7 linked regions of the Homo sapiens genome follow. The gene in region 7 interacts genetically with the main gene of each other region. Each region holds a gene or a part of one and is shown on either strand. Other genes may lie near its edges. The genes, in order: HUS1, KCTD10, CTNNBL1, SKIC8, AURKA, ZNHIT6 and COPS4.

Region 1 (4,619 bases), on a different chromosome or scaffold from region 7:
AGTTCCTGGAAGTACCCAGAGTCTGTTCCATAAATATTGGCACCATCAATATTGGTCGAATGGCTTTTGAGTGAATAAACTGACAGCATTCCACTTAGATTTGGTATTTCAACTTTTTTGTCCCGGGTCTTCGGGTTTGTTTTGTTGTTGCTTAATATTAACAACATAAAAATATTTTTAAATTCTTTTCTTGGCAGTTATCTATGTCAAGCAGTAGCCGCATTGTGACCCATGACATCCCCATAAAGGTGATTCCTAGGAAATTGTGGAAGGACTTACAAGAACCGGTGGTCCCAGATCCTGATGTAGGTGATGCCTGCAGTCCTGCTGTACACCCCACATTAAATGGCATGACTTGAATTCTCTAGTTTTAGTTGTAGTCTTGCAGTATATTTTATTTTTAAAGGATACTTAACGAAAACATTAGATTATTTGCCTTTTGTTATTTACATAAAGCATCTTAAAAATGTTGCATATGATAGAAATGTCATGCCATCCTATATGTAGAAAATGTCTCGCTCAGTAACATCACTTAAAACACAAATGATACTTTTGGAGGACAATTAGTATTTATTAGTATTCTTGGCCTTAGACACCAATTTGGGTTTCACAGGACTTGATCTTTTCCTCAGCCGGTCAGGAGCGATATCTGGATGTGCACGAAAGCCAAGAAGAGAAGAATTTCATGGCTTAGGGCTAACATGGGGTAACGGTCATGCCGATGGTTAACCCTAGAGCTCCTGAAAGTAAAGATGATGCCAAAGGGCCCATTTCCTCTTGCTCACAATTTGTTTAAGAAGAAAGTACAGAAATATGCTGGGTAAAATAATTACTTGACTTTTACTAGATGGCACCTACACTGATTTTGAAAAAGCCTGTGTTTTATAGAGCACTCTTGGTAACAGTCTCAGATGTGATGCAGTGACTGTCTGCCATGTTTTTGTACAGAGCATGGAAAAGGCCCTTGAATCATAGGTGTAAATGTCCCTTAGAGGAGGGCCTCCTGCTGATTGCCTGAGTTATATTCCCCCTGGACCAATATAGGGGCATCTCAGCTGAAGTACCCTATTCCTTCTTGAGCCAAAAGAATGCCCACAGGGACATGGTTGCTGAGGTAACCAGAGGCAGGCATTCCATTCTTTAATTTTGCTTGAGCATCCTTGAGTTAGTGAAATAGAATTGGTTTTCTTTTTATATTTTTAAAAGAACTTTATTCAGAAAATTGTAAAATAGTATCCCATAGTTTTTGAGCATGCATGTGTTCTAGAGTTAGTTATGGGGCCCTTGTCATTACTAGAGTATATTAATATTTTTAATACTTGTGCTTTTTTCTCATTGGTTTTGTAGGTTAGTATTTATTTACCAGTCTTGAAGACTATGAAGAGTGTTGTGGAAAAAATGAAAAACATCAGCAATCACCTTGTAAGTCACAACTTCTTTAGAAAAGAACTCTGAAGTATTTGGTGGGACGGCGTGGGTTCTCCAGCTCACCCTGCAGCAGTCCATGCAGGTGGGCACCTCCTAACCGAGTTCCCACTTATGAGGACCTGGCCTGGTGCTGAGAACCTGCAGATTGCTAGTTGGATTTAGAAACCTATTCCAATACTTTTCAACTCTAATTCTTTGAGGAAAGCTTTTATATTTGCCTTTAATCTGCCTGTTTTTCCTCTTATATTTTGTATGAAACATTGTATCTTTCTTTTTTTTTTTTTTTTTTGAGACAGAGTCTCACTCTGTCGCCCAGGCTGGAGTGCAATGGCGCCATCTCACCTCACTGTAAGCTCCGCCTCCCGGGTTCATGCCATTCTCCCACCTCAGCCTCCCGAGTAGCTGGGACTACAGGCGCCTGCCACCATGCCTGGCTAATTTTTTGTTTCGTATTTTTAGTACAGACGGGGTTTCACCGTGTTAGCCAGGATGGTCTCGATCTCCTGACCTCGTGGTCCGCCCGCCTAGGCCTCCCAAAGTACTGGGATTACAGGCGTGAGCCACCGCGCCCGGCTGGAACATTGTATCTTTTACCTGCTAACGTGCCCGTATTTTTCTGTGAGTCACTGATATGACTGACAGTGAGTTTGGAGTTTCCTGTCTGCGTGCCAAGTGTCTTTCAGTGAGCCAGGGACAAAGATATGCCACACCATAGCAGCCTTTATTCCAAGCACACCTCACACCAAGCTAGGGGGCACTTTTATATTTCTGTTTATTTTCTGTTTATTTTGTGGAAGTCTCCTATGGCCACATGGCTCGAAATGTTACAGTGTGTGACAGTGGTGGGAAATGTGTAGGTTATCCTCATTCATACCTGGGGTTATTGTGAATTCTTCCTTCACTCACTGCCCCTCCCTCCTCCCCCTGCTCCCTCCTATCCTGCTCCAAAAAACACCCTTGGTTATGTCCCTGAATCTTCTAAAAACCACTGTCCACCTGATGAAGCATAAACTTTTGATCTTGACAGTGTACCAGGCCACCTTTATAGCCACATCTCTGTTGTATTGCCACACCCTCCCTGCAGAACGAGGCTGGGTTCTGGTATTCCCCCACAATGCCTCTTCTTTTTTGTTCAGTTTCTTTGCCATTTGACACATGGCTTCTTCTCTCCATCTCCCTGGAAGGCACTTAGCCATTCTCATGCTTCATCACAGACCTTTCCCCACCACCCCTCTGGAAGCTCCTCCATGGAGCTGAGCTGTCCAGTGTACATGGTAAATCACCTGCTAAGATCTCTGAAGGTCTCGTGAACCACCAGCTTCTTGATAAAGGAAACCCCATCTTAATCATCTTTGTGTCCCAGCTGCCCAGTGTGGGATTGCCACTCAGTAGGCAGCAATAAGTGTTGCATGGATCTGGAACAAAATTTAGCTTCAAGAGGTCTTTGAAATCACAAAAGTATTTTGAAGCCTAGAAAATGTACATTTGACTGTTTTTTTCTAGAGTTCTGCACACTAAGAGCAATGCTGTCATTGGACCTGGGTAACTCAAAGCTTTTCCTTCATAACTTAATCTATAAAATCTGTTTTCCATGAAGCAGTGTGCACTGTGCTGACGTTGGTGTCACCTGTGACTGCAGTGATGCTGATCCAGTTGTCAGGCTGGCTTCATCTGGGGATACCCTGGGGACTTCCAGAGAAATTCAGAGAGGCCCAGGAGAGAAAAGACAGGGCTGTTAATTGAAGGATGGCATTTGTTTGTTCTTTCTGTTCAATGAAAATGAGTCAGCAAGGTAGAGAGGTAGAAGGGTAGCTTAGAATCATCAGAGGTGTTTTGTTTTCTCTTTTTTGGAGTTTAAAAAAACATAGAAATATTGTGGAGAGGCTACTACGATCTGGAATTACTAAATGGAAAGTTATCAAGTTACTGTAGCAAAGTACATAATGAGGTCTTCCTGGGTATCCAGAATTCTGTATCTGAATATTACAGGCAGTAGAATTAAGGAAAATGGGTAGACTTAACACACTAAAAATGCCCACCTTCCCATTAGAGATGCCCAGTTACTTCCTTTCATTAAATGCGAGGTGTGACTGATGGGGTGGGTTGTATGTGACTCATGCAGGAGCAGAAAAAGAAGCAAGAACTGGAGGGAATTGACATCATGTTCTAAGACATTGCTTCTAAGTTCTACCATGCGTGTGAATCCCCTGGAATCTGGTTAAAGTGCAGGTTCTGATTTGGGAGGTCTGAGCTGGAGCCTGAGGCTCTGTTTCTGACCAGCTCCTGGGAGATGTCGATGCTGCCTGTCTTCAGACCACATCATGTAGCAGTACTTTGTGATGTGTGCCTGTATTACTCCGTTTTCACGCTGCTAAAAAGATATTACCTGAGACCAGGTAATTTATAAACAAAAGAGGTTTAATTGACTCACAGTCCTGTATAGCTGAGGAGGCCTCAGGAAACTTACAGTCATGACAGAAGGCAAAGGGGAAGCAAGGCACGTCTTAACATGGCAGCTGGAGAGAGAAGAACACAGGAAAAACTGCCATTTTTAAAACCATCAGATCTCATGAGAACTCCCTCACTATCAAGAGAACAGCATGGGAAAAGCTGCCCCCATGATCCAGTCACCTACCACCAGGCCCCTTCTCAGCACTTGGGGATTACAATTCGAGATGAGATTTGGGTGGGGTTGCTGAGCCAAAACAAACCACATCATTGCCATACTATATTGTACTTCAAATGTTATCTGAGAAACGGCTCTGCAGGGTCACCTAATGATAGAAACCAGAGTCTATGTTTAGGAGTCATGATATGGAAGAGGGGAGTCATTGGAGCCACATACCTGGGTTCAGCTCCAGGCTGCGCTGTGCAGTGAGTACCCTAGTGCTGGATACTACCCCAAATGGGGATAACAGTGCAGCTATGACAGGGGCTTCGTCAGTTTTTAAAAATTTAGAGATAATTTTTACTAGGTGCCCAGTATAGTCAGCATTCTATAAACAATAGTTGACTATTTTAAGGAAATCATTGAAAGATCTTACCCTGATACTTAAGAAATCAAGTGTGTTGTTGTGTATAATATCCCAAATAACTGAATCTTAAAATAGACATGAGTGACCAGTGTTCAGAGAATTAGTTGTTTGTTAGTTTCTTCAGTAAGTATTGACTTAAGGCCACCATGTGCTAGG
Region 2 (4,619 bases), on a different chromosome or scaffold from region 7:
GCCCTAGGTAACCACTAATCTGTTTTCTGTCTTGATGAATTTGCCTGTTCTGGACATTTTTATGTGAATGGAATTGCATAATATATGGCCTTTTGTGACCAGATTCCTTCATTCAGCATAATGAGATTACCTAAGAGGTTTTCAAGGTTTATCCATGTTGTAGCATGAATCAATACTTCATTCCTTTTTATGGCAGAATAATATTCCACAGTGTAGACCACATTTTCTTTACCCATTCATCAGTTGATGGACATTTGGGTTGTTTGCACTTTTTGGCTATTGTGTGTAATGCTGTTATGAACATTCATGCAAAGTCTCTATGTGGACTTACGTTTTCATTTCTCTGGGAACAGAATTGCTGGGTCATGTGGTAATTCTATGTTTAATCATTCGAGGACCTGCCAAACTGTTTTCTAAAGTGGCTGCACCATTTTACATTCCCACCAGCAATATATGCAGGTTTCTAGAATGCCATTTGGCCCTTGAAAACATGTGGCTCTAACTCAGGAACTTGAGGGATGCAGGGAGGATTTAATCAGGTTACTCAAGATCTTTAAAAAGACCTAGGATATAGAGTCTCCCTTGGGCAGTGCCATTCTGCTCCTCTTGGGGCTCGGTGAGGTGCTCTCCTCCACCTGGTGCCTGTGCCCAGAGGCTGTCACTCAAGCACAATGGTTAGGAGCACTCAGGCTTAGGGGCCAGGGCTGTCTTTTGGGGGGCGTGTCTGCCATTTATTAGGTTCAGCCTTGAGCAATTACCTAATTTCTCTGATCCTCACTTTCCTTCTTGAGTGATGGAGATTGGAGTGCCTTTGTCATGGGATTATTGTGAGGTTGAAATGAGGTAGTGGAGAAAGTGGGCTCAGTAGGGCCCTGCGTGTAGAAGGGCCCAGCAAATGATGGCAGTTTTTACCAGCTTGTGGTCACCGTATCAAATGCTCTTTTGCAGCAATTCTGACGACAATATGTTGAAAAACATTGAACTGTTTGATAAGCTGTCTCTGCGCTTTAACGGAAGGGTCCTGTTCATAAAGGATGTTATTGGGGATGAAATCTGCTGCTGGTCCTTTTATGGTCAGGGCCGGAAGATTGCTGAAGTCTGTTGTACCTCCATCGTCTATGCCACTGAGAAGAAACAGACCAAGGTAAGAGCCTCGAGAGGACAGTTTGGAGTGGCTGTTCTGAAACACACACCTATAGAACTTCCTTTCACTTGAGCCCAATACAGAGGGAAATGCTTTTAAAATGCTTTGCTTGCCTTGTGATTGCTCATCCTTAAAATATTTATCTTTTAGGCCCTGCAAGGAGCCAAATGTAGGGTTCATCTGGCATTCCTTTAGCTCCCTACCTTGCTGGCTTCCTTCCAAGCATGCTTGACTCCCTGACTGGGCTGGACTCTGGGGATGTGTTTTTATATCATCCTCTCCAAACCAGTAGGCTTGACCTATCCTTTGACTTCTCCCACCATGCCGTTCCACAAAGCTGGATTGCTCTGCATAGTGCTGCTAGAGATCTGGCCCCCCCTTAATTGAATTTGCCTGCCCTTTTGGGGCTCTGCAATTGGGTTTTCTGTCTTTTTAAACTTTTAATTCACATTATACACTCTGTCATTTCTTTAACGTGTCTAAGGGAATTCTGGCTATCCAGTGACATGCAGCAGGTCTGCTGTGGGCCGACGGTCATGCCTCTTGTCACCCTTGCACAGGAGTCTTAAGAGCCTGAGCCTGTAGGTCACTTACCCAGGTTACTATTGTCCCTGCAGCTTTTGGGGCCACAGTTCTGCATGATTCTGTAGCTGACCTCGAACAAAAAGCAAATGAGAAGAAATCATCACATCACAAAGTAGAAACCAGAGTCTTTTTTTTTTTTAACTTATTATTGAAAATTGAAGCCATACACAGAATTATAGTGTGGTGATTTCCCCTGTGCCATCACGCCACGTCAAGGGCCATCAGCTTGGGCACTCTCACTCAGTCTGTATCTACTCCTCCTCCCCAGCACTCACAGGATGAATTTGACAACATATTTTATTCCTAAGCATTCAAAATCTATCCTAAAAGAATAGATATTGTTCTTAAGGTAGCCAAGAAGTGCTAAACACTGAGGTTCTTTTTGCTTTCAAAGATCCCGGGGGCAGGGGGTGAACCAGAATCATCTGCCTCTCTCTCCACATTGGCAAGACATCATGCCCCTTTTCTCCTGTGAACTGTTTTTTTTTTTTCAGGGCTGTGAATTCTTCCTGTAATTAGACCCCCATTCTGTCATGGTTTGATTTTTTAAAAATATACCTGGGCTGCCTCTGCCCTTGGGTAGTAAGAGGAGAGTCACCATATTGATTAAGCTTTAAAAGATTAAGACTTCTCATTTTTAGAGCTTAATAAGGAACAAGGGGATTTAGAGACCACATGGTCTGATCCCAACTGTTTCTAGATTAGCAGACAGGTTCAGGAGTGGCATGTTCTTGTGTTTGTAAAGCTAGTTAGTGGCAGAGCCAGGATGGGAAGCCAAGGGCCTCTTTCTTTTCTCTTTGTTTTGAGAGAGAGTGTTGCTCTGTCACCCAGGCTTGAGTACAGTGACACAATCATAGCTCAATGCAGCCTTGAACTCCTGGGCTCAAGTGATCCTCCTGCCTCAGCCTCCTGAGTAGCTGGGTCCACAGGTGCATGCTACTACACCTGGCTCATTTTATTTATTTTTGTAGGGACTGGCTTTCACTATGTTGCCCAGGCTGGTCTCGACCTCCTGGCCTCAAGTGGTCCTTCTACCTTGGCCTCCCAAAGTGTTGGGATTACAGGCATGAGCCACTGCACCCAGCCCATATCACTCTCCTCTCCTGTCTCATCTCCACTCTGTTATTGAGCCCTGCTGGTAAGTTGTGTTTTTGTTTGAGGTTGTTGGTTATTGTATTTGTCAGTTCTCAAGTGCTCATTTGGTTTTTCTGTCTCCTTGCTGAGACTCCCTATGTTTCCATTTGCTCTAAGAGCATTGGCCCTTACTTACTGGAACAGGTTAATAATAGCTGCTGCCAGGTCTTTGTCAGGTAATTCCAAAACCTTGTGTCACCTTGGCGCTAGCATCTGTGAGTTATTTCCCACAGGAGTTGAGAATTTCTTGGTTCTTGTGTATTGAGAAATTTTGATTGTATCCTAAACATTTTGAATATTGTTAAAGGACTCCAGGCCTTGTTTAAATCCTAGGGAGAACATTGATGTTTTTGTTTTAGCAGGCAATTGACCCAGTTGGGCTCAGGCTGCAAGCTCTAACCAGCCTTCTGTAGTTTGTAGTTGCGGTGACAGTTTGATTTTCAAAGCCTTCAAATCTGTCCTAGCTGTGTGCCATGCTGTGGCCCGTCTGTCCTGGGCAGTATCTCTTGCAGCATTCAGTTCTTTCAGTCTGCGTATGCAGTTTAGGGGTAGATCTTGCAGCTGGGTGTGGGTCTAGGAGTTCATATACAACTTCACAGGCTGCTTTCTCAAGCTCCTCTTCTCCGCAGTTCTCTAAGCTTCCCTGGAGTCCCCTTCTCTGATCGGCCAGCCAGAAAGCTGGGGGTTTGGTTATTCCCCCTTTGCCACCCACTTTCTGTAACCATGCCTGTATTTTGGGCCCAGGAGCATGAAGATAGAAAAAGCAACCAGATTCTCCCAATCCTGCTGAGACCACAGCTCTTCTCATCAGAAAAGAAGGTTCCTTCCCTCAGAGTTTTGACTCCTGCAGTCTCTGGTTGCTGCCACAGGAATGCTCAGGTCTGGGTGCAAGAAAATAAAGAAAAGGACTGAGCATGGTGGCTCACACCTGTAATCCCGCACTTTGGGAGGCCAAAGCAGAAGGATTGCTTGAGTCCAGGAGTTTAAGACCAGCCTGGGCAACATAGCAACACCCCTGTCTCTACCAAAAATTTTTTAAAAAATAGCTGGGCATGGTGGTGTGTGCCTGTAGTCTAAACTACTTGGGAGGCTGAGGTGGGAGAATCATTTAAGCCCAGTAGTTCAAGACCAGCCTGGGCAACATAGCAACACACTCATCTCTACAAAAAGTTAGTTGGGCATGGTGATGCATGCCTATAGTCTCAACTACTTGGGGAGGCTGAGGTGGGAGAATCATTTGAGCCTAGGCGTTCAAGGCTGCAGTGAGCTATGATTGTGCCACTGCACTCCAGCCTGGGTGACAGAGCAACACTCCCTCTCAAAACAAAAAAGAGAAAAGAAAGAGGCCCTTGGACTCCCGTCCTGGCTCTGCCCCTAACCAGCTTCACAAACACAAGAACACGCCACTCCTGAACCTGGTCTGTGAATCAAGAAACAGTTGGGATCAGACCATGTGGTCTCTAAATCCCCTTGCTCCTTATTAAGCTCTAAAAATGAGAAGTCTTAAAATTTTAAAGCTTAATTAGCCAGATCCCATATCTTTTAAAAAAAAAGGAAAGAAAACCAGGATTTCCTCCCAGCCTCTCTGCCTGTTAGACTCTGTTGGCCTCCCTGGCCACTAGAGACCTTCTGGAGGTCTTCTGTCCTGGTGCCATTTCAGGGTTTCAGGCTGCATCAGTGCTGGCAGCAGCAAACAGTAAACTCACTGTTGGGCATTACTCCAAATTCTGTTGTTTCCCCCATCTGCCTGCCATGA
Region 3 (4,619 bases), on a different chromosome or scaffold from region 7:
AACGTAGAAAGTTAACATAGTACCTTAGCAGTGTTTTGCAACTGTAGAATTCTCCTAGATACTTTATATAGTTTAATTCTGCCAAAATACCTGTAAATTTGGTATTATTAGTGCCGGTTTTCAGATGAAAAACTGAGGGTGAGAAGGTCACAAAGGTTAAAGTAACTCACCAAATATCCAGAGCTAGTAAGTAAAAGAGCATGTTCCAAACCCACACTTACAAGTCCCAGGCCCATTCTTCCACCCTGCTCCATACTGCCACCTCTCCATGTGGGCATTTCACAACTGTCTGATGAATGACTGAGTCAAAGTAAAGATCTATATTTAGGGGCAATGGAACCACAGAAACTTTCCTGAACTTCTAGTGTTACAGCTTCATAGTCTTGAATAGGCTCTCTCTAGACAAAGAGCCACCTGGCAGCTCTTACTAGAAGATCAGAAAGGGTGACTATAGTATGGAAAAAAAATTCCATCCCAATTAAACTTTCCATTTGGGAGTCTGAAGAAAAATAACACAGAACAAAGAGTATGGGAATGAGAAAAAAGGAAATGCTGAATCTGCTAATATAGCTAATTAATGCCAAAGAATGAATGTAACAGCAACTTCAGCATTCAAAAATGAAGTTAGGAGATCTAGAGAGGTACAGTTTCTAAGTTTTTTGGAGCTCTCCTTTAATTAGCCTCCCTGAATCTCAGCATTCCTGTTTGAATAATCCATATTTCTGGTTATTTATTCAGCTCCCCTCTGCTATGCAATACCTAGCCATATGCTGCAGAAATATATCACTTCATATTTGCACTCAACCAACCAAAGACACTGGCAATTCAGACCTTTAAGAAGCTTAAGGAAAAGTCCCTTCAGAACATTGTGTTAAGGTTAGAAGATCCAAGAAGCCAAATGTATCTTCTATTTATGCTATTTACTTGAGAGAAGGTGGGTCATTTCAACAAAAGGACAAGCAATTAGAAGGGTAAGGGAGATAAACAAAAGACTCAAGAGAGTAAAGCTAGCAAAAATCAGCTAAACACAAAAGGCCTCTGAGTAATTTCTCATGCTCCTCTCTGCATTTTTTTAAAAATTGTTTTTAAAAGCAATTCCTCAAAGGAAGACTTTTGGTCAATGCAAGGTCTGGTACACACTGGACAAATGAAGAGGTCTACTGTGCCTCCAGCCCCCCAGAAGCCTTTTAAAGATAATATATTTTAGAAATATACACAGTAAGTCATCACTTAACATCATAGATAGACTTGGAAATGGCAACTTTAAGTAAAACGGGATATAGGAGGTCAGATCCTCAAATAACACCGTTATAACAATGATCAGAAAAACTGGTTTCATTATACATCATTTCGCTTAAAGTTATGGTTTCCAAGAATGTTACTGATGATGTTAAGTGAGGACTTACTGTACCTGGATAATCCTAACATCATTTTAAACACAAAAATGGTCACTGTAGAATTTGTTATAACGGCAAAACATTGGAAATATCCTCAATGCCAACAACAGAAGAATACTAAGTAAGCTACAGTCCCTTAGAGGCCATGATGCAGTTACTGAAAACTCTCATGAAGATTATTCACAGCATGGGAAACAGCATCTTATGTCTGAAATGTAGCAATACAGAAAATCCTATGTGTGGCAGGCTTAAAAAGTTGTTAAAAATTATAGAAAAAAAGACTAGAAGAAAATATACACCCAAAGACAGGCTGTGTTTAGCTCACAGAACTGTTTTCCTAACTTTGTGGAGACAGAAATTCTGTCTTAGGTATTTCTGTGTATGCCCAGTACTTAACATAGTACCTTGTCAATGTTTTAATAGCAGTTTTATATGTTAGTATTCTAAATTCTATTTAACAAATATATATCACATTTATGAAAAACCTTTCCAAAGAAATATCTTAGTTCAACAGAACTTTCAGTATACTTGAAGTTTTAAGACAGCAGACTCTGGCTCCATTTCTTTTTTTCTTGTTTTTTTTTTTTTTAAATCTCAACTTGCTCCTCTGTAGGGCACAATTCATAATGACTAGAATCTTCCAACCACATAAACATGCTCGATTTTTTTTTTTAAGTCCCTTGACCCTATACCACAGTCTGGTTATCCCCTCAGCCTTCCCCCACACACTTCTCTACTCCCCTTCCTAGACAGGGTCTCAAGAGTTATCAACATAAGCTTCCTCTCCCCTTTTTGCTTCTAACTTTAGGATTCTATAAAATAACTGTGAAACTAATATAAGATCCACTTTCAGGAATTAGCGTATAAATAATAAGACACACAAGGAAAGTACTATAAATAAAAGTTTCTAGAACTGTCTTGCACGTTTTCATATTTCCTAAGCTAGGCATACAGCACATGTACAACTCATTACTGAATGAGGAGTGAAAAATATGAATGATACGCTGCTTTCAATAAAAATACAAACATATGGCATAGATAGGTCTATGTGATATATACAGAAAATTAGTCCAAGTTTAGAAGTAATGGCTAGATTTCCCCAAAACTAACACACTATGGGAAGGAGAGGAAAAACACCAATGTCCTTCAATGGAGTGGACGTATTAGCAACCACCACAGTAGGGCACAAACAGAACACAATATACTTTTTATTCATCTACTCTAACTTTAGGAAAGACCACATACCTATACAAACACATCCCCCCATGCCTGAAGACTTTACTCTTCAGGGTAAAGTCTAGGAAACCCAACAGAATAAATGATCATAGCTACATGCTCTTGAATTCAGGCTAACAGTGAAAAGTCAGGCAAAAAAGGTGGGAGAACTAGGGCATTCGAAACATACCTGAGCATGAGATTCATCAGCTGAAGACCCTCGCCCTTCAGGAAGCGCTCACGATTGGAACTAAGCATTAGACAGGAGCAGAGGGAATCAAACAGATTCTCCATCATCTCCTGCTCCTCAGCCGTGCTGGGATTGTGTCTTTTAAACACCTGTCAAGCAAAAACAGCACAAAGCACAGAGCTATAAGAGAATGTCTTTTCATGAGCCTCCATCCAACAATTCCTAAAACCTGTGGGTCATAACTCTACGACTGAGGAAACAGAAGCTCACCAAACAAAATTCTCATCAGTTTCCATTTTAGAGAAACTAAATGATTCACATATATTAAATACATGCAAAAAAAAAAGCCAAAACACTCTACTGACCACTGGGTCCATCAGTAATTGACAGTTCCAGGCAAGCAGATTTTTTTAAAAACCAAAACCCAATAAAAAACAAAATCTTTTTATCGTGAAATATAACACAGATACAGAAAAACTCCATAAAGGACATATAAAACTAAATGAAGTGAACACCCCTGAAATCATTATCCAGGATGAGAAACAACTTTGCCAACTCCCCTCAAAGCCCTCCACTTGCCCAACCCAACCATATCTCATTTCTTTCCCTTCTAAAAGCAACCACAATCCAGAGGGCTGAATCGTGGCTCAATATAAGGAAGCATTTCCTGACAACCAAGGCTACTGAATTCCCTCACAGGGGAGCTGGGGCTTTAATTCATGGGAAGGGCTTACAGCATTAGTTTTCTTTTTGCCAGAGATGTAAGGCATGTTAAGAGAAGCCTTTAAACTGTATATGCATACCCATACAGTCTACTACAAGAAGATCAATAATCTCACAGGAAAAGGACTAAGCACCTTCCCAGAACTGGAAACAGATTCACATTTCAAAGCTCTATTTTTGGGGTGGAGGCCAAGACACTCAGGCTGCTGGCACCAAGATGGAAGCTGTATGCAAACTGACATCTCAGACTCTCCCAACACTCTTAAGATTTTATCCAAATGATCTATTTTCAGTCCTGTTTTTAGAATAACACAGCTAAAACTTGTAAGAGGAAATCTTAACAGTATTTTCAGAATGCCAGCAGAATAACATTTCAACTGGATTTACATTTCTTACAGTGAGAAAATGGCAGTTTCCAAGTTCTCACTCCAGCCTTCAGCACCACATCCTCCCCTATCCTCCCCTTGACCCCCACCCCACTGCAGTGGAACTTGTACTCCTTGAGCTTATTCAGATCCTAAATGAACATACTCCATTTTCACAGCAGATTGAAAGGAAGGTTGGTGAATAATCTTGGCAGTGGGTCAAATGAAAATAATTTGGTATGCTTGGCCCAGAACATACACACTTAAGCATGAGGCACATCTTTTTTGAGTTGACAATATCATATCAGAAGATGAAGAAAGTTCAGAACTGATACACAGTGATGTCTGGTCATAAAGAGCAAATGACTAAGAAAAGGAGGCAAACCATGTCCCTCCGTATAACCCTCAAACCTGCCAACATGCTCCATATGGCTTGCAGCACATGGCTTATTCCTTCCCACAGTTTCCAGCTCCACCTCCCATTCAAAGCAGACCATGTATCTTACAGCAGACAGGAAGCATAAGAATTACTCACGGATAACTGCTGAAGAAGCACATCGATTCCATCCAGCTCCCCAAGCAATTCCCTGTTTTCTAAAGGGGAAAAAAATAGAGGAAGAAAAAAAATGAACCTAACTGTCAGATTTTACAGCCGTCTAACACTGATACATCAGCAAACAAAATCAATACAGCTTGACAGAGTACAAAAGCAGCACAGGGAGTGAGAGG
Region 4 (4,556 bases), on a different chromosome or scaffold from region 7:
GAACTCATGTCGGGAAAGTGAACATTTTTGGTGTGGAAAGTGGGAAAAAGGAATATTCTTTGGACACGAGAGGAAAATTCATTCTTAGTATTGCATATGTAAGGAAACATTGCTCTCTGTTCTCCTTCTGATTCTTTCAGTTTACCCTTCCAGCCTGTTGCAGTCCTTGCCACAGATTCTGTCTTGGTCTGGTCAGGCAGCTGCTGTCTCACTGGTGTGGTTTGCCAAGTAGCCAGTTAGACCTGTAGATAGCAGGAGGTTTGCTTGTGTTTGGTAGGGACAGCTTAACAACACGGAGTCTGAAAGTGCTAATTTCTCCATATGTTCTCTGAACAGAGTCCTGATGGGAAATACCTAGCCAGTGGAGCCATAGATGGAATCATCAATATTTTTGATATTGCAACTGGAAAACTTCTGCATACCCTGGAAGGTATATATCATCATCTTATTTTGACAAACTGGGTTATCAAATCACAAAGGAAGAATTATTCTTTCATTGAAATGCCATTAAATGGCAAATGGGCATTAGATTTACAAAATATCAATCTCAATTGGAAAACTGAAATGCCTCCAGGTTTTAGTCTTGTCACTATAGTTTTTTTTGTTTTTTTGTTTTTTTGTTTGTTTGTTTGTTTTCTTTTAGAGACAGGGTCTCGCTCCCAGGCTGGAGTGCAGTGGTGTGATCATAGCTCACTGTAACCTTGAACTCCTGGGCTCAAGGGATCGTCCCACCTCAGCCTCCTGGGTAGCTGGGACTACAGGTGCACACCACGATGTCTGGCTAGTTTTTAAAATTTTTGAGGAGATGGGGTCTTGCTGTTTCCCAGACTGGTCTCTAACTCCTGGCTTCAAGATTTCTTCCTGCTTTGGCCTCCCAAAGTGCTGGGATTACAGACATGAGCCACCATACCTGGCCTGTCACTATAGATTTAACCTAGACATACTAGTTCTTGTAACAGTGTTAAGTGCTTGTTTGGGTGAACAGACTTACTTTTTATTTATTATATCGTAATCTATCACATTATGTATGTGTGTGTTAATATATATTTGCTATATGAATGTCTCATTTCTGTTATTTTGGATTCTGATGAACTTTGTGATTGGAAACAACTTTTTGTTGATAATTTGAAGGTGGATGAAAGTATTGTGCCCACTGTCCACACCGGTGGCCTCTGGAAAGGAGGACTGGGTAGCTAAAGAACAGGGGTAGGTTGGAGGGAGACTTTATTATGCGTACTGTTGTGCTGTTTTGAATTCTAATCAAGTGAATTTATTACGTCCTCACATTGCTATAGTTTATCCTTTATACTATAATAAAGGATTTGATAGGGAAATAATACCTTAATTTGTTCAACCTTACAAATCAGGAGCAATGTATATATCCTTGTGTGGCCATATTTGTAGTAGAAAAGTTATTTAAAGCAATGTATGCTGAGGGCAGGGAAGGGAACTAAGGAGAAATGGCTCTGGGAGGAGATACTGGGGTTATGTGGATGTTTTGAGAACATTAAGAGGAAAGGCCCAATCAGAACTCTTGCTTTTCTGCCTGAAGCACCTGAGCATTTCAACTCAGTGGCTCATAATCATTAAAAGGGGCATTGTCAGTGGGAAGCTGAGTGAGGAGGCAGTGGTTCACCAGATTAACAAGGGCCTTTATGAATTTCAGGCCATGCCATGCCCATTCGCTCCTTGACCTTTTCCCCGGACTCCCAGCTCCTTGTCACTGCTTCAGATGATGGCTACATCAAGATCTATGATGTGTAAGTTACCTTAAAGGCATCTCCCTTACTACTGATGCCCATCTTGTCCCTTTATTGTTACAAGGAGCCCTAGGGAGGAGCCCTAGTAAAGACCTGTGCTCAAGTCACATCAGACACCTTGACTCCCCAGGCGGTCCTCCCCCGTTCAGCGCCCATTTTTAGTGTGTGTCCTCAAGGGCTGCTTGGAGGAGGATGTGCATGGGTTCCCTGGTAGGATCAGATACTTGCTACTTTTTCTCAGGCAGCCTGATTTTTGTGAGCTTACTGATTTCAAATTCTTTGGGATAGGTAAGTAATATACAGATGAGGAAATGGAGCCATGGGCTGTAGCTGGCCCCTGGGGACAGGAAGAAATTAGAGCATCCATTTTCAAGGGTAGGGCTGTTCTAGCAGACATGCCTCTGCCCTAGTTAGGGAGCAGTCAGTTTATAAGCCGCCCTGCTACAGGCCTAGATGGGAGCGTTTTTGGTTTTGGCCCTTGACTGCGAGTATAGAAGCAAGTTAATCATCCTCTTTCATTCACAGCCGTCATTGTAAATCTGTGCGGACCCCTATGTCTTCTTCTTTTCCCCCATCATTTTTAGTCCTGACTCCTATTCCCCACTGAGGTATCCCCTGTAATGTGTTGGATCTGTGTTCTTGATACTATGACTCGGTGCTATGGTCAGCTCTCACTGCCAGGCATGCCTCTGGCTCATTGCTCCCGAACATGGCATTCTAATCCACTGCATGTACATATCACACTCCAACCTTAGCCATGGGTGCCAAGACCTCCTCCACCTGCATGTACTGCAACCCTGACCATCCATGTGTGTCCTTTCAGGGGCCTGTGATAGTTGCTTGGGAGTTTAAACCTCACAGTAGAAACACTGCTCCTTCTAGCCCACTTCTGGTTAAAATGCAGTTTTTTCTGGCAAAAGGTTATCAGCTAGACATAGAATTCTAACTGCAGTTTTTAACTGTAACTGAGTGAGGGTGCTGTAGCCCAGAGGGGAAGATGTCTCTATAGAGTTATACTTGCCTGTTAGTGGCAGAGGCAGTATAAATGCAGCAGTTCCTTACATTTGTGACTTTATGATTTCTATTGCCACTGTTTTATTGATCCTCCCAGCAACCAATGAGGTAGCAGCACAGATTAGTGTCCCCATTTTGCACATGAGAAACCCAAGCTGAGGTGGTTGATTTGCCCAAGGAGGTGGTACTGAATGAAGACCCAAGAATGTTTTTTTCACCCAATATTGATGCATTATTATTAATTAAAGTCTGTAGTTTACATTAGGGTTTACTCTTTGTGTTGTACATTCTATGAGTTTTGACAAAATTATGTGTAGCCACCCCTAACTACAGTGTCACGCAGAATAGTTTCACTGCCCTAAAAATCCCCTGCTCTACCAAATCATCCCTTCCTCCTGCCTTGAGCCCCTATCAACTACTGATCTTTTTACTAAGGCCCAGGACTTTTTACCCTCCCATGGTCCCACTGTATCCCACCTGCCCCCTAGCCCCTAACTGAGGTCTGCTCCACTCTGCTGAGGTCTGTGTTTAGGGGTAAAATTGCTGACCTCAGTTAGGTCTTATGGTGGTTCTCCTGCCAGAGGTGGTTGGGTTTCATTTTTATTAAAAAAGTGAAAATAGCTGTTGTAATTAGACCTGTCTTGTTCTTGATTAGGTTTAAACTGGTCTCTCCAAGCTGCATCTGTCATAATGAATACATCTTGACACTTTCCTTGGACTGGGAGCACTGGCCCCATACGGAAAGGCTGCTGGTGCAGGCAGGAGTCTGAACCTGCCCTTCTCCTCAGATGGCTTCCTTGCCCCGTTGGTTCTCAATTTCCTCATCTGAGGGGTTGGCTTGCGAAGCCTCTGTAGTGTGGTTCTTTGTTCATTTTGAGCTTCAGCTCTTTGCTTGTGAAGGATTTTATTCTTGGCTTTTGGTGGTGTCAACACATTATGGGTTAATGCTACTATTAAAATTTGTCTCTAATGCATGAAGCTACTTCATTGAAAGAGGAATTTTTGATATAGTATTCATGGTCATTATAAGGATAGCAGATTTGGTCCAGCTTATTGGCAGAGTTAATAATATACTTTCCACTTCAGTGATTATACTGTAGAAATTAACATCTCAATTTTGTTTGAAACTTTCCCATTTCAGACAACATGCCAATTTGGCTGGCACGCTGAGCGGCCATGCCTCCTGGGTGCTGAACGTTGCATTCTGTCCTGATGACACTCACTTTGTTTCCAGGTACTTAATGATTCTTAGCAGTTTCTAAAATGCTGGGGAGATGAGAGCAGTCTTCTTGTATAGATTGCCTTAACATTTAAAGATGTTTGACCCTTTTTTATTCAGTTAGCCTTTCTTTTCTGCAGTTCTTAAAATTTTTATTTAGTGATGTTAGTTGACCTTAGCTGGAACAAAAGTCAACAAGTAATCCTTTTAAACAGTAAAACTCTTAGTTTTTTCATTATAAATTGAGGCTTCTACCAAAGTGACTCTAAGGTAGACTTGTGTTCCAATGGTAACTTAAAATATGTAAATGTTTGTAAAATGTTGTTTATAGATCCCAGTGTTGGTCAGGCCTGGGATGGCCAAGACAGTTGGAAAGCAGGAGATGGACAACTTGAAGGCATTGCACAGTGCTTTAGAGGCCTCCTGCGAGCCTTGGTTTTGAAGCTTTAACAGGCCTCCCTCCCATCTGGAAATAGGTAGCTGTGTCTGAGACTCCTGGAGAACAATTAATATGAGGGCCAGGCAGATCACAATTTCAGGAAAATGGCTACCCTGTGAGGAGA
Region 5 (3,520 bases), on a different chromosome or scaffold from region 7:
CTTCTTGCTTTTTGAAAAGATTACTTACATAACCGATAGTCACTTCACTCCAAATCCCAGATGTTAATCATCATCATTTCCTGGTTATTGCCTCAGTTTGAGAACCCCCGATTCAGTCCGTCGGTGCTGATGGAGGGGTTAGATGACCAGAGTGGTAGCTTCTTAATCCTACGTCACAATTCAGTGGTGAGTGACTGTTTGTGTGCTCAGTGGGTGCCAGGCCTGGCTGAACACAGCACCAGGGCTGTGACCACGTAAGCCTCCATGGTGAAGAGCAGCTGATAACAAAGCAACACGAACCCACACAGACTGTTCTGGCTTGCTGTCTGCTGTTCCCAGCTTTTTTCCAACCTTCGTTAAAAAAACCTAAACCGATAAAAATGCGGAATTGGTAGTTGATGGCATACCTGTCTATACAGTGCCTACGTTCAGCAGTTTTTCCCATTTAGTCAGAAGGGCTGCATCTGCTTTTTTAGTGAACACTTGAAAATACGTTGCAAACATCATGATGCTTCAACCTTAAGCACTATAATAGAATGCATTTCCTAAATAAGGATATTCTCCTATATAACTAGAACCATGATCACTCCTAAGAAAATTAACAGCATTGTCAGTATCTAATATTTAGTCCACATTCAGATTTCTCCTATTGTCCATGACATCTTATAGCTGGTTTGTAAAATCAGAACTCAACCAAAGCCCATGCTTTGTATTGGACTGTCTATGTGGTTGGATTGTCTCTGTGGTTGGACTGTCTCTGTGGTTGGACTGTCTCTGTGGTTGGATTGTCTCTGTGGTCTAAAGCCAGACCAGTCTCCCACTTTAAAGAGGACTTTTCTGATTGTGTTGCCACTTAACTTGGACCTTTATTCCCCGTATTTGCTGAAAACTGGAATGTAGGTCTCAGGTCCTGAAGAGATTCAGGTTAAGAAAATTTTTTTTTTTTTTTGAGACAGAGTCTCGCTCTGTCACCCAGGCTGGAGTGCAGTGGTGCGATCTTGGCTCACTACAAGCTCGCCTCCCGGGTTCACGCCATTCTTCTGCCTCAGCCTCCTGAGTAGCTAGGACTACAGGCGCACACCACCACACCCGGCTAATTTTTTGTATTTTTAGTAGATACGGCGTTTCACCATGTTAGCCAGGATGGTCTCGATCTCCTGACCTCGTGATCCGCCTCCCTCGGCCTCCCAAAGTGCTGGCATTACAGGCATGAGCCACTGCACCCAGCCAGGTTAAATATTTTTGGCAAGAGTACTTCATAGGCCACCCTCAAAATTTCAGCATCACTCGTACCAAGTATCTATCACAAGGCAGCATGTGTCTACATCTCCACCCCAGTGCTGTTACAGTGGGACAGTTTCTAGTGTATTGTCATTGCGACCAGGCTTTTAAGATTCTTAGCATATCTGTAATATCCACATGCAGATGTAGAATCCAAATCGTATTTACAGAGAACTTTGCATGGCAGCTTTTATATGGTAGTGATACATTCAGTTTCTTACATTCTAGATTATTCAGGGAGGTTCTGGAGTTGGACAGATTTGGGGTTAAGCCTGATGGCTAGCTGTGTGACCTTACACACCTCGCTTCATCTGTTTCCTATGGGAATTTATAATAGTAGCTACTTCCTAGGGCACAGGATCTGGCCCAGGGGAAGACCTCAGTGTTAGTGGACTCTTTAATGATTGTTAGCAGCTGTTGTGATCATAAAACGAGAAGCACATCAACCTGAGCCTCCCTCCGTTTTCAGGAGGACCACTCTCTGTGGCACCCTGGACTACCTGCCCCCTGAAATGATTGAAGGTCGGATGCATGATGAGAAGGTGGATCTCTGGAGCCTTGGAGTTCTTTGCTATGAATTTTTAGTTGGGAAGCCTCCTTTTGAGGCAAACACATACCAAGAGACCTACAAAAGAATATCACGGGTAAGACGCAACTGAAAAGGACCCAGCACATCTGCTGGAATTCTTTCCTTATCAGCCTGAACTGCAGGCCAAGATCCGAACATCTATACTATTTGATCTCTCTAACCTGTGTTTTGTGATATTTTATCATTTGTTGTACTCCAGGTTGAATTCACATTCCCTGACTTTGTAACAGAGGGAGCCAGGGACCTCATTTCAAGACTGTTGAAGCATAATCCCAGCCAGAGGCCAATGCTCAGAGAAGTACTTGAACACCCCTGGATCACAGCAAATTCATCAAAACCATCAAATTGCCAAAACAAAGAATCAGCTAGCAAACAGTCTTAGGAATCGTGCAGGGGGAGAAATCCTTGAGCCAGGGCTGCCATATAACCTGACAGGAACATGCTACTGAAGTTTATTTTACCATTGACTGCTGCCCTCAATCTAGAACGCTACACAAGAAATATTTGTTTTACTCAGCAGGTGTGCCTTAACCTCCCTATTCAGAAAGCTCCACATCAATAAACATGACACTCTGAAGTGAAAGTAGCCACGAGAATTGTGCTACTTATACTGGTTCATAATCTGGAGGCAAGGTTCGACTGCAGCCGCCCCGTCAGCCTGTGCTAGGCATGGTGTCTTCACAGGAGGCAAATCCAGAGCCTGGCTGTGGGGAAAGTGACCACTCTGCCCTGACCCCGATCAGTTAAGGAGCTGTGCAATAACCTTCCTAGTACCTGAGTGAGTGTGTAACTTATTGGGTTGGCGAAGCCTGGTAAAGCTGTTGGAATGAGTATGTGATTCTTTTTAAGTATGAAAATAAAGATATATGTACAGACTTGTATTTTTTCTCTGGTGGCATTCCTTTAGGAATGCTGTGTGTCTGTCCGGCACCCCGGTAGGCCTGATTGGGTTTCTAGTCCTCCTTAACCACTTATCTCCCATATGAGAGTGTGAAAAATAGGAACACGTGCTCTACCTCCATTTAGGGATTTGCTTGGGATACAGAAGAGGCCATGTGTCTCAGAGCTGTTAAGGGCTTATTTTTTTAAAACATTGGAGTCATAGCATGTGTGTAAACTTTAAATATGCAAATAAATAAGTATCTATGTCTGTGTGGAGTGCTGTGTAATTCTTTCCACCATCTGTTCATTGTTGGCCTGGAAATGAGCAGGGGCTGAGAGGAGCAGGTCTCGCCCTCATCTAGTCCTGCCTCTTCTGGTCTCTCCTGTTGGGTGTACTCCTAATACTTCATTATATATATTGTTTATATATTTGTCATATCTTTGTCATCTGTCCATCGACTAAAGATACGGTGAAAGTGACTGTGATGAAGGAAAAGTAGAAGTGTTGAACTTAGAGCTAGTAGAGAAATCTGCTTGCATGGCCAATGCTCAGTGCAAGAAACTGGACAGCAGGTATGTCAGGATATGTCATAACAAAGTGGCCAATATAGAGAAACTTAAAAACATGACTCAGTAAAACTGCAGCTGCCAGCCCCCTTGGGACAAAGGGGCTTCTGGTTCTCATAGTCTTGAGCTGAACTGACTTTGACCTTCCCAAATAGTTCATGTGCCACCCTCCCAAGCTATAGTTATTATCACGTGACTGAC
Region 6 (4,619 bases), on a different chromosome or scaffold from region 7:
TCTGATTACTTAAGGATATGGCTGTGACCCAAACAAAGTCCGTCCCCTCGTGGAGTTGTATTTAGTGGGAGATATAGGAGATAAGTAGAGGAACAAATGTAATTTCAGATAGAGTTAAGTTCATATAGAAAATAAAGAAGGCTCAAGAGATTAAAGAGAGAATGAAAATGGTCTTTGTTGGGGAGAGATTGTCAGGGTACTATTTTCGATACAGTGGTCAGGAGAAGCTTCTCAAAGAGATGATGTGTAAGCAGTGATCTGAGTGCTGAGAAAGAGGCTGTCATGTGAACATTTGGAGGCAGATTATCCCAGGTAGGGACAAAAGTAAAAGGAAAGACCTGAGTCAGAAACAAGGATGTCTGGTTTGAGGAATTAAAAGATTTGCAAGGTAACTGAAGCATAGTGAGTGAGGAGGAGAGTATTGAAAATGAAGTTAGAGAAACTGGTGAGGAGTTGGGTGCAGTGGCTCATGCCTGTAATCCAAACACTTTGGGAGGCTGAGGCCAGAGCATTCCTTGAGCTCAGGAGTTCAAGACCAGCCTGGGCAACATGGTGAAAACCCGTCTCTATAAAACAATACAAAAATTAGCCAGGCGTGGTGGCGTGCCCCTGTACTCCCAGCAACTTGAGAAGCTGAGGTGGGAGGATCACCAGAGCCCAGGAAGGTCAAGGCTGCAGTGAGCCATGATTGCGCCACTACACTCCAGCCTGGGCAACAGAGTGAGACTCTGTCTCAAAAGAAAAAAGAAAAGAAACTGGTGAGGGTTTCTAATTCTAAGTGCAAATGGAAACCATGGAAGGGTTTTGAACATAAATTTGCCTTTTGAAAAACCACTCTTGCACTTTGTGAACTTTAGCGGGGCAAGAATGGAAGATTGGAAGCAGGGAGACCAATTATGCAGCTCTTCCCATGATCCTTGTGAGATAATAGTGGCTTGGGTGTACTGTTTGAATTATTGGGAAGGGATTAGATTGCGATTTTGAAGGAAGAGCTAACAAGACTTGCTATTCTAATACACTTAATTTTCATACTCTTGCATTCCTTTTTTAATTCCTTAAATACTATGCAAAATTAAAGCTTACATATTTGGAATATTTGGCAACTGGTGTTGTAGAAATTTGTTTATGGTGTGATTAAATCGTATCCTGGAATTGTGTTCATTTTAGTATTGGAGTTGCAGAATTTTAATACCTTTTAAACACCTTATTTTATTGGTATTATTGGTACAGACATAATTACATTACACATATCTGAAAGAAAATTATTCATATAGCAACTCTTATTTTTCCTCAAACTTAATTAGGCATAATTAAAATTCTACTTAAAGATAAATTACTTTACAATTTTTTTTTAAATTGTGAAATATAGCAAGTATATTTTCTAAACATCACAAAATGGAAATACACAGTATAATGAATAATTATAAAATGAATATTCATTTAACTACCACCCCAATCTAGAATTAGAACATTACTGGCTTCCCAGAAGTTCCATGCCACCCTTTTATGCCCTTCCCTGATCTTTTCTCATTTCTTTATATTTTTTTCTATCTTAGGACTGTACCACAATTTGTTTACGCATTTTTTTAATGGATTTTGGATTTTCTGTAAGAATAAAAAACAGTTTAGAAACAATGCCACTACTTTTGTCTATGAATTATAGTATGTGTGTGAACATGTGTTTCTAGGGTTTATACCTGGGAATAGAATTGCTTTGTTGTGTGGTATGCATATCTTCAATTTGCCTAGATGTTACCAAAACATTTTCCAAAGTGATTGTACTAGTTTACACTCTCACCAATAGTGTATGAATGTACCTATTGTCATATTCTCGCCAATACTTAGTTTGGTAAGACTTTAAAAATTTTTGTCAATCTGTTGGCTTTGTAATTTTATTGTGGTTTTAAATGTGCAGTTCTTTAATTCCTGATGAGATTGAACCACCTTTCAAATACTTTATTGGCCATTTGGATTTCCTCTTTTATGCAGTGCCTGTTCAAGTCTTTTGCTCATCTTTTCATTGGTCAGCTTTATTTTTCTTACTGGTTTGTGAGAATTCTTGGTATTTCTTGGATGCTAGTGCAAGTTGGTTGTATGTTATAAATACCTTCTTCTAGTCTTTGTCTTGTCTTTTCATTTTATAGTGTCTTGTGGTGAATGGATGTTCTTAGTTTTAATGTAGTCAAATTTATCATTTGTTTCCTTTATAGTTAGTAGGTTTATATGTTTATAAAGAAATCCATCTCTACCTTGAAGTTAGGAAGTTATTCTTTTATAGTTATTGCCTAAAAGCTTTATACTGTTGTGTTTTACACTTATGTCTTTAACTGGAATTGATTTTTGGTATCATATACAGAGGAGTTCCCATTTAATTTTTCATATAGATAATCCACTTTTCCCAGCACCATTTATTGGAAAGTTCATCCTTTCCCTATTGCTCTGTAGGACCACCTTTGTCATATATCAGCATCCCTATATGCTTGGGTCATTTTGTGGCCTTGTCTTTTCCATTCTGTTGGCCTACTGGTATATCCTGCACCAATACTATGCTCTCTGAATTATTGTGGTTTTTTACTGAAACTTGTTATCTGATTAAGTCCTCCCACTTTTTTTCTAGAGTATGGCTATTCAGTGCTGTTTTCAAGGCAAAATAATTGCAAATCTAAGCAAGGGATGGTCCATAGCCATAACTGCTAATGGATTTTTTTTCTTTTTTCCTCTGTTTCAGTGTAACCATACAAGTTTCCTAGCTTGCTCTAAAAGTAGAGATTGTTTCTGGTTCACCCTTATCCTGAAGGTATATTAGGAGGGTTGGTCACTGCTATTAGAATTATTATAATTATCACTACCATTACTGAAACTAAAGTCCTCTAAATTATAAAATTACATGTAATTTCTTAAAACAGTTTCCTACTTAGCCAATGATAGCTGACCCATCCTTTCCTTGGCTTATGGACTTGATTCTGACTGTTTACATTGCAAATTCTAGATCCCTATTCACTTAACAAAAAACTTGCGTTTATATTTTGCCTCTTATTTGAGTGATCTTTCTTCTTCCTTGACTTAATAAAAATCTGGTATTACTTCCTTCATAACTCTGGAATTGCCCAGTTTAGCTTAATCAACCCAGGTGGTCAATGTAATAACACATGTCAGAGCCAGAATGTTCTCATATCCCATTTTGTGCTTCCCACAACAGTGGTTACTTTAAGCTAGGCCTTGTACTAGGCAATGCCTTGGCTCTTCCCTTGAGTGAGCTGTCTAGTAATAAAATCAGTGATATATATATACAGCTAACTGGTAAAACCATCGGTAAAAGAAATCAAGAATTGTGTAGGTAGCCCCCGTGATTGCCAAATGACCTGTGTTTTTGTTTGTTTAATCTCCATTAAATTCTTCTTTGGCTCACAGAACATATGGTTAGAAACACAAGCTCTGGAATTAGACAGACCAGGGTTTGAATACAGGTTCTATCTCTCTGGGATAGCTGTATGATGTTGGGATCTCACTAATTTTTATTGCTAAAATGGAGATGATAGTACCTATTCTCATAGTATCATGGTGAAGATTACATGAGATTACTGCTTAGAGCTGTTGTAACACTTAGGTTCTCAGTAAATCTTAACTATTATTGAACATTGTTTTACTCACTTTTTAAATTTAAGGAATTTAAAAATTAATTTGTCTGTTTGGTTTTTGTTGTTAGATGTACTTTATGAAAAATCGTGCCCGGAGGCAAGGTATTAACTTAAAACTTCTACCCAATGGATTCACCAAGAGGAAGGAGAATTCAACCTTTTTTGATAAGAAGTAAGTTTCTAACTTTTTAGTATATCAGGTATTCTGATTTGATCAGGATCATTCTTTAAGGTTTGGTTGCTATAGAGCATTGCTACCCCAAGTGTGGTTCTGTAAACTGTTTGTTATTGGTCCATGACAAGATAACTGTAGTAATTGTATGTCATGTAACTCTAATAAAAATTTGGGTTTGCAGTGTGTGCGTGTGTGTGTGTGTGTGTGTGTGTCTTCATATCATTTGAGAAGCTTCTCAAACATTAATGTGCATACCAGTCACCTAGGCATCTTGTTAAGTATGCTTGTTGTGATTTTTCAGTAGGCCTGGGTTGGAGTTTGATATTGGGCATTTCTAACAAGCTCCTCAATGATGCTCATTGTTTGAGAAACATATTTTGAGTAGCAGCGCCCTGGAACACTCTCATACATTAGAAATAAACTGTTTCTTTGAGAACTAAGATACCAAGAAAGTATTTCAGGGGCTTCCAGGACAAAACGAGTAAAAACAGGACGCCTGTACTGTTTTAATCAAGGCAGCTCTGCTTTTATTTTCTTTCTCCACTGGGTTTCCAAATAAGATTTCAATTAAAAGCTGTCAATGTAGAAGAAGGGGACTTTGAACTCTTGAGTACAGATAATATAACAGAGATTAGTTTGCTGCTGTCTGAAAATGTTGGGTTGAAAAGGCCCCAAGAGTACAGAAGAGAACAGGATCCCAAAGTTCTTTAAGTAGCCAACTAAATTATCAGATAATACCTTTCAGAAGTCAAGATTTTGGATTTAGAATTTTTAAAAACTTGAGGGAGTCCCTCCCTTTTCAGCCT
Region 7 (4,619 bases):
CTCCCGGGTTCAAGCGATTCTTCTGGCTCAGCCTCCTGAGTAGCTGGGACTACAGGCACACGCCACCACGCCCGGCTAATTTTTGTGTTTTTAGTAGAGACAGAGTTTCACCATGTTGGGCAGGCTGGTCTTGAACTCCTGACCTCAGGTGATCCGCCCACCTCAGCCTCCCAAAGTGCTGAGATTACAGGCGTGAGCCACTGCGCCCGGCCAAATTTTTTTAAGGAAGAAAATATTTGGCACTTGTCACATTCTCCATATCAGTCACATTTCTCTTTGTATACTGAGTACTCATATAAAAAGCTATTATTATCTACGAAGCCTTATTTGACAAATCTAGTCCATTTTTGTTTTACTCTCACTCTGTCACAGGCTGGAGTACAGTGGCTCACTGCAGCCTCCACCTCCTGGGTTCAAGTGATTTTCCTGCCTCAGCCTCCCGTGTAGCTGGGACTTACAGTTGTGCACCATCACACTCGGCTAATTTTTGTATTTTTAGTAGAGATGGGGTTTCTCCGTGTTGGCCAGGCTGGTCTTGAACTCCTGGCCTCAAGCGATCGTCTTCCTTGGCCTCCCAAAGTGCTGGGATTGCAGGTGTGAGCCACTTCACCTGGCCTTACTCTCTTTTGAGTTAATATATTACCTCTTCATTTATCATATTGCTTATATTGTTCAGTTTTATCATAACTTTTGTTTTTGTATTATTGTAATTTAATACTTTTTTTTTTTTTTGAGATAGAATTTCGCTCTGTCACCCAGGCTGAAGTGCAGCAGCGGGATCTCAGCTCACTGCAACCTCTGCCTCCCAGGTTCAAGTGATTCTCGTGCCTCAGCCTCCCGAGTAGCTGAGATTACAGGCACGTGCCACCACACCTGGCTAATTTTTGTATTTTTAGTAGAGATGAGGTTTCACCATGTTGGCCAGGCTGGTCTCGAACTCTTGACCTCAAGTGATTGGCCCACCTCAGCCTCCCAAAGTGCTGGGATTACAGGCGTGAGCCACCGCACCTGACCATATTGTAATTTAACACTTGACATATTAACTTTTTATTTTTAATCTTCCCCTTTGTCTTCTCAGCCATATGATCTTCAAATACAAAGGTCATTTAAAAACTTTTTAGTATCATACACAGAATCTCATATAGCATCTTAAAATGCCTAAGGACTCAATTAACACCTTGGGGTGATTTTATATGGCAGTATTAAATTTCTGTTTAAGTTCCTGGTTTAAAACAGGTTTGTTAGTCATTTTATGTTATTCTGAAAAAGTAATCTCTGTTGTTAGATACTAGAATTTACATATTAGAGAAGCAAGGGAGCATGTAATGTAGCCACAGTGCTGTACCTCACTTTTTTTAATTAATTAATTTTTTTTTTTTTTTGAGACAAGGTCTTGCTCTGTCCAGGCACACGCCACCACAGCTGGCTAATTTTTGTAATTTTTTTTTATTTTTAAAATTTTTATTTTTGAGATGAGATATCACTCTGTTGCCCAGGTTGGAGTTGCAGTGGCAAGATCTCAGCTCACTGCAACCTCCACCTCCTGGGCTCAGGCAATCCTCCCCCCTCAGCCTCCCAAGTAGCTGGCACCACAGGTGTGTGCCACAATGCCTGGCTAATTTTTTTATATTTTTGGTAGAGATGAGGTTTTACTATGTTGCTCAGACTGGTCTCGAACTCCTGAGATCAAGCCATCTGACTGCCTTGGCCTCCCAAAGTGCTGGGATTACAGGCATGAGCCACCACGCCCAACCAATTTTTGTATTTTTTTTTTTTTTTTGTAGAGATGAGGTTTCACCACATTGCCCAGGCTGGTCTTGAACTCCTGGACTCAAGTGATCTACTTTCTTTGGCCTCCCAAAGTGGTAGGATTACAGGCATGAGCCACTGCGACTGGCCCTCAATTTATTCATTTATAAAATTGGGAGTTTATGTACACAATTTCTAAGGCCTCTATAAGTTATATAATTTGATGAGTATAAAACTTTGATCACTTTTTAGGTTGGTTTATTTTCATTTTTTCTTCCTATTCCCAATACAGATTAGTTGATTGATTATGAAACTATGTGTTAAAACTTAGGTTAGGCCAGGCACAGTGGCTCAAGCCTGTAATCCCAGCACTTGGGGAGGCTGAGTTGGGAGGATTGCTTGAGTCCAGAAGTTGGAGACCAGTTTGGGCAATGTAGTGAGACCCCATCTCTACAAAAAGAAAAGAACAGTTAACCAGGGGTCGTGGCACATGCCTGTAGTCCTAGCTACTCAGGAGGCAGAAGCAGGAGGATTGTTTGAGCCCAGGAATTGGAGGTTACAGTGAGCTATGATCATGTCACTGCACTCTAGCCTGGGCGACAGAGTGAGACCCTGTCTCAAAAAAAAAAAAAAAAAAAAAAAAAAAACCATAACAACCACAAAACAACTTAGGTTAATTAGCAAATTTATATAAGTGAGACACTATTACCTTTGAATATAATGTTGTTAGTATAAAATAATCTAAGAGGATATAAAAGTAAGAGATCTTAGCAATAACCCTTGATTTAATTAAATATGAAAAAAATAAAAAATAACAAACCATTGAATGTATAACTTATCTGAAAGCATGCCCAGGGCCATAAAGTAATTTATCTTTTAAGGACCCTCAAACTTAGCAATATTGAAAATATAATTTTCTAAAAACTTAATATTTCCTTGCTTTCTTAGAATAATTTATTTCTTCTTTTGGAATTTGCTATCTTTTCTATCCGTATATCTGCTTTCTTAAAGTCACTTTGATTCATTGTGGTTTTGAGAAATCAGATAACCAAGGTTGTGAGAATTTTGTATGAGTTGAGAGTCAGTAATGCTGAGTGGTAGCTTGAGGGTGTGCCCTACAAAATAAAAGTCATAAATCTGAATGAGTTCAGGTTCTATTTTTGTATATTTATTTCGTAACTCTATTCTGGATGACTTTCCGAATAATTGCAATGCTATGAGGTTTGTAAAATGTATTTAGTGCTTTTAAAAAATATTACAATTGGCTGGGCGCGGTGGCTCACGCCTGTAATCCCAGCACTGTGGGAGCCCGAGGTGGGCGGATCACCTGAGGTCAGGAGTTCAAGACCAGCCTGGCCAACATGCGGAAACCCCATCTCTACCAAAAATACAAAAATTAGCCGCACTTGGTGGTGCATGCCTGTAGTCCTCGCTACTCTGGAGGCTGAGGCAGGAGAATTGCTTGAACCTGGGAGGCGGAGGTTGCAGTGAGCCGAGATTGCGCCAGTGCACTCCAGCCTGGGTGACAGAGCAAGACTCCATCTCAAAAAAAAAAAAAAAAAAATGATTAAGACAAAAGAGATAAAGATTAGTATAGGCCGGGCACGGTGGCTAACGCCTGTAATCCCAGCACTTTGGGAGGCTGAGGTGGGCGGATCATGAGGTCGGGAGTTTGAGACCAGCCTGACCACATGGTGAAACCCCATCTTTACTAAAAATACAAAAATTAGCCAGGCGTGGTGGCGCATGCCTGTAATCCCAGCTACTCAGGAGGCTGAGGCAGGAGAATCGCTTGAACCTGGGAGGTGGAGGTTGCAGTGAGCCAAGATTGCGCCACTGCACTCCAGCCTGGGTGACAGAGCGAGACTCCGTCTTCAAAAACAACAACAACAACAACAACAAAAGAATAGTATAACACTCATATACTAACCACTCGTTAAGAAATAAAACATTACTAATACCGTTGAATATTTGAGTGCTTATGATGTGCCAAGAATTGAGATAATTGTCTACATAGCAGAGAACAAAACACAAGAATTCCTGTCCTCGTGGAGCTTGTGTGGTCACAGATATTAGGTAGAATAGTTATTAGATCTGAATGCAAATAAAGAATAAATAGGTACTGTCTGACAGCATAAATGGTATTCTATCAGTGCATTTGGCTTGGCGAAGTTTATTTTGTACAGACTAAGACATTCAGTCTTTAATGTTTGGTTTCGTTGCCTGGTCAACATTATCCTATTGCTGGTGACCCTACATACATTACGTCTGTAAGAGGAAAAGATTCAGGTCACCTCAAATAATGTTTTTGTGTGTCTATGTATTGCACAGTTGAAGGAAATATAGCTTATCTTTTAAGGCATTTGAAAGGAAATTGACTTTGTAGTTTAAATTCAAAAATAAAACCTTCAAGAAAAAGTGACACCTTAGATTCAGTAACAGAATTATAGATTCATTCTTTCTTGTGATGAGCTTGAAAACTTAAAAAATTCTGGTATACTATACTGAAAACTAGATGAAGTGGTACCTTATATAATTATAGATTTAATATCTCTTGTGATAGACTAGAAACTTAAAAAAAAATCTGTGGTATACTATAAAGAAAACCACAAACTATAGTACTATGAAAGAAACCAAGGTATGTAGAAATGAATAAATACACATCAAAGTTTGCATTAGAAAATATAGTACCCTCAGAACATTATTTTCATTTGGTATTGTTGTAGGTATCGTCAGATCCTGGAAAAAGCCATTCAGTTATCTGGAGCAGAACAACTAGAAGCTTTGAAAGCTTTTGTGGAAGCAAGTAAGTGAAATGGAAATTTCATGCTTGCCTTGTATTACTGAGCTAGGACTTTAAAGTTCTCTCA

The links.
Region 1: changes in COPS4 (region 7) and HUS1 together harm fitness more than expected from each alone (negative genetic interaction), as found in Homo sapiens cells (one large-scale study listed by BioGRID).
Region 2: changes in COPS4 (region 7) and KCTD10 together harm fitness more than expected from each alone (negative genetic interaction), as found in Homo sapiens cells (one large-scale study listed by BioGRID).
Region 3: changes in COPS4 (region 7) and CTNNBL1 together harm fitness more than expected from each alone (negative genetic interaction), as found in Homo sapiens cells (one large-scale study listed by BioGRID).
Region 4: changes in COPS4 (region 7) and SKIC8 together harm fitness more than expected from each alone (negative genetic interaction), as found in Homo sapiens cells (one large-scale study listed by BioGRID).
Region 5: changes in COPS4 (region 7) and AURKA together harm fitness more than expected from each alone (negative genetic interaction), as found in Homo sapiens cells (one large-scale study listed by BioGRID).
Region 6: changes in COPS4 (region 7) and ZNHIT6 together harm fitness less than expected from each alone (positive genetic interaction), as found in Homo sapiens cells (one large-scale study listed by BioGRID).

What each region holds. Positions count from the first base shown.
Region 1 is NC_000007.14:47,972,416-47,977,034, reverse strand, and holds part of HUS1 (checkpoint protein HUS1), read left to right. Parts: intron 1-197; coding exon 198-305; intron 306-1,347; coding exon 1,348-1,422; intron 1,423-4,619. UniProt on the Homo sapiens protein: Component of the 9-1-1 cell-cycle checkpoint response complex that plays a major role in DNA repair. The 9-1-1 complex is recruited to DNA lesion upon damage by the RAD17-replication factor C (RFC) clamp loader complex.
Region 2 is NC_000012.12:109,452,643-109,457,261, reverse strand, and holds part of KCTD10 (BTB/POZ domain-containing adapter for CUL3-mediated RhoA degradation protein 3), read left to right. Parts: intron 1-948; coding exon 949-1,144; intron 1,145-3,607; coding exon of another isoform or gene 3,608-3,775; exon of another isoform or gene 3,776-4,619. UniProt on the Homo sapiens protein: Substrate-specific adapter of a BCR (BTB-CUL3-RBX1) E3 ubiquitin-protein ligase complex. The BCR(BACURD3) E3 ubiquitin ligase complex mediates the ubiquitination of target proteins, leading to their degradation by the proteasome.
Region 3 is NC_000020.11:37,777,519-37,782,137, reverse strand, and holds part of CTNNBL1 (beta-catenin-like protein 1), read right to left. Parts: intron 4,485-4,619; coding exon 4,426-4,484; intron 2,952-4,425; coding exon 2,803-2,951; intron 1-2,802. UniProt on the Homo sapiens protein: Component of the PRP19-CDC5L complex that forms an integral part of the spliceosome and is required for activating pre-mRNA splicing.
Region 4 is NC_000015.10:78,285,493-78,290,048, reverse strand, and holds part of SKIC8 (superkiller complex protein 8), read left to right. Parts: coding exon 1-98; intron 99-336; coding exon 337-430; intron 431-1,666; coding exon 1,667-1,760; intron 1,761-3,915; coding exon 3,916-4,008; intron 4,009-4,324; coding exon of another isoform or gene 4,325-4,388; exon of another isoform or gene 4,389-4,556. UniProt on the Homo sapiens protein: Component of the PAF1 complex (PAF1C) which has multiple functions during transcription by RNA polymerase II and is implicated in regulation of development and maintenance of embryonic stem cell pluripotency.
Region 5 is NC_000020.11:56,368,890-56,372,409, reverse strand, and holds the end of AURKA (aurora kinase A), read left to right. Parts: intron 1-1,750; coding exon 1,751-1,925; intron 1,926-2,069; coding exon 2,070-2,252; 3' UTR 2,253-3,020; downstream 3,021-3,520. UniProt on the Homo sapiens protein: Mitotic serine/threonine kinase that contributes to the regulation of cell cycle progression.
Region 6 is NC_000001.11:85,701,348-85,705,966, reverse strand, and holds part of ZNHIT6 (box C/D snoRNA protein 1), read left to right. Parts: intron 1-3,706; coding exon 3,707-3,810; intron 3,811-4,619. UniProt on the Homo sapiens protein: Required for box C/D snoRNAs accumulation involved in snoRNA processing, snoRNA transport to the nucleolus and ribosome biogenesis.
Region 7 is NC_000004.12:83,041,151-83,045,769, forward strand, and holds part of COPS4 (COP9 signalosome complex subunit 4), read left to right. Parts: intron 1-4,475; coding exon 4,476-4,555; intron 4,556-4,619. UniProt on the Homo sapiens protein: Component of the COP9 signalosome complex (CSN), a complex involved in various cellular and developmental processes.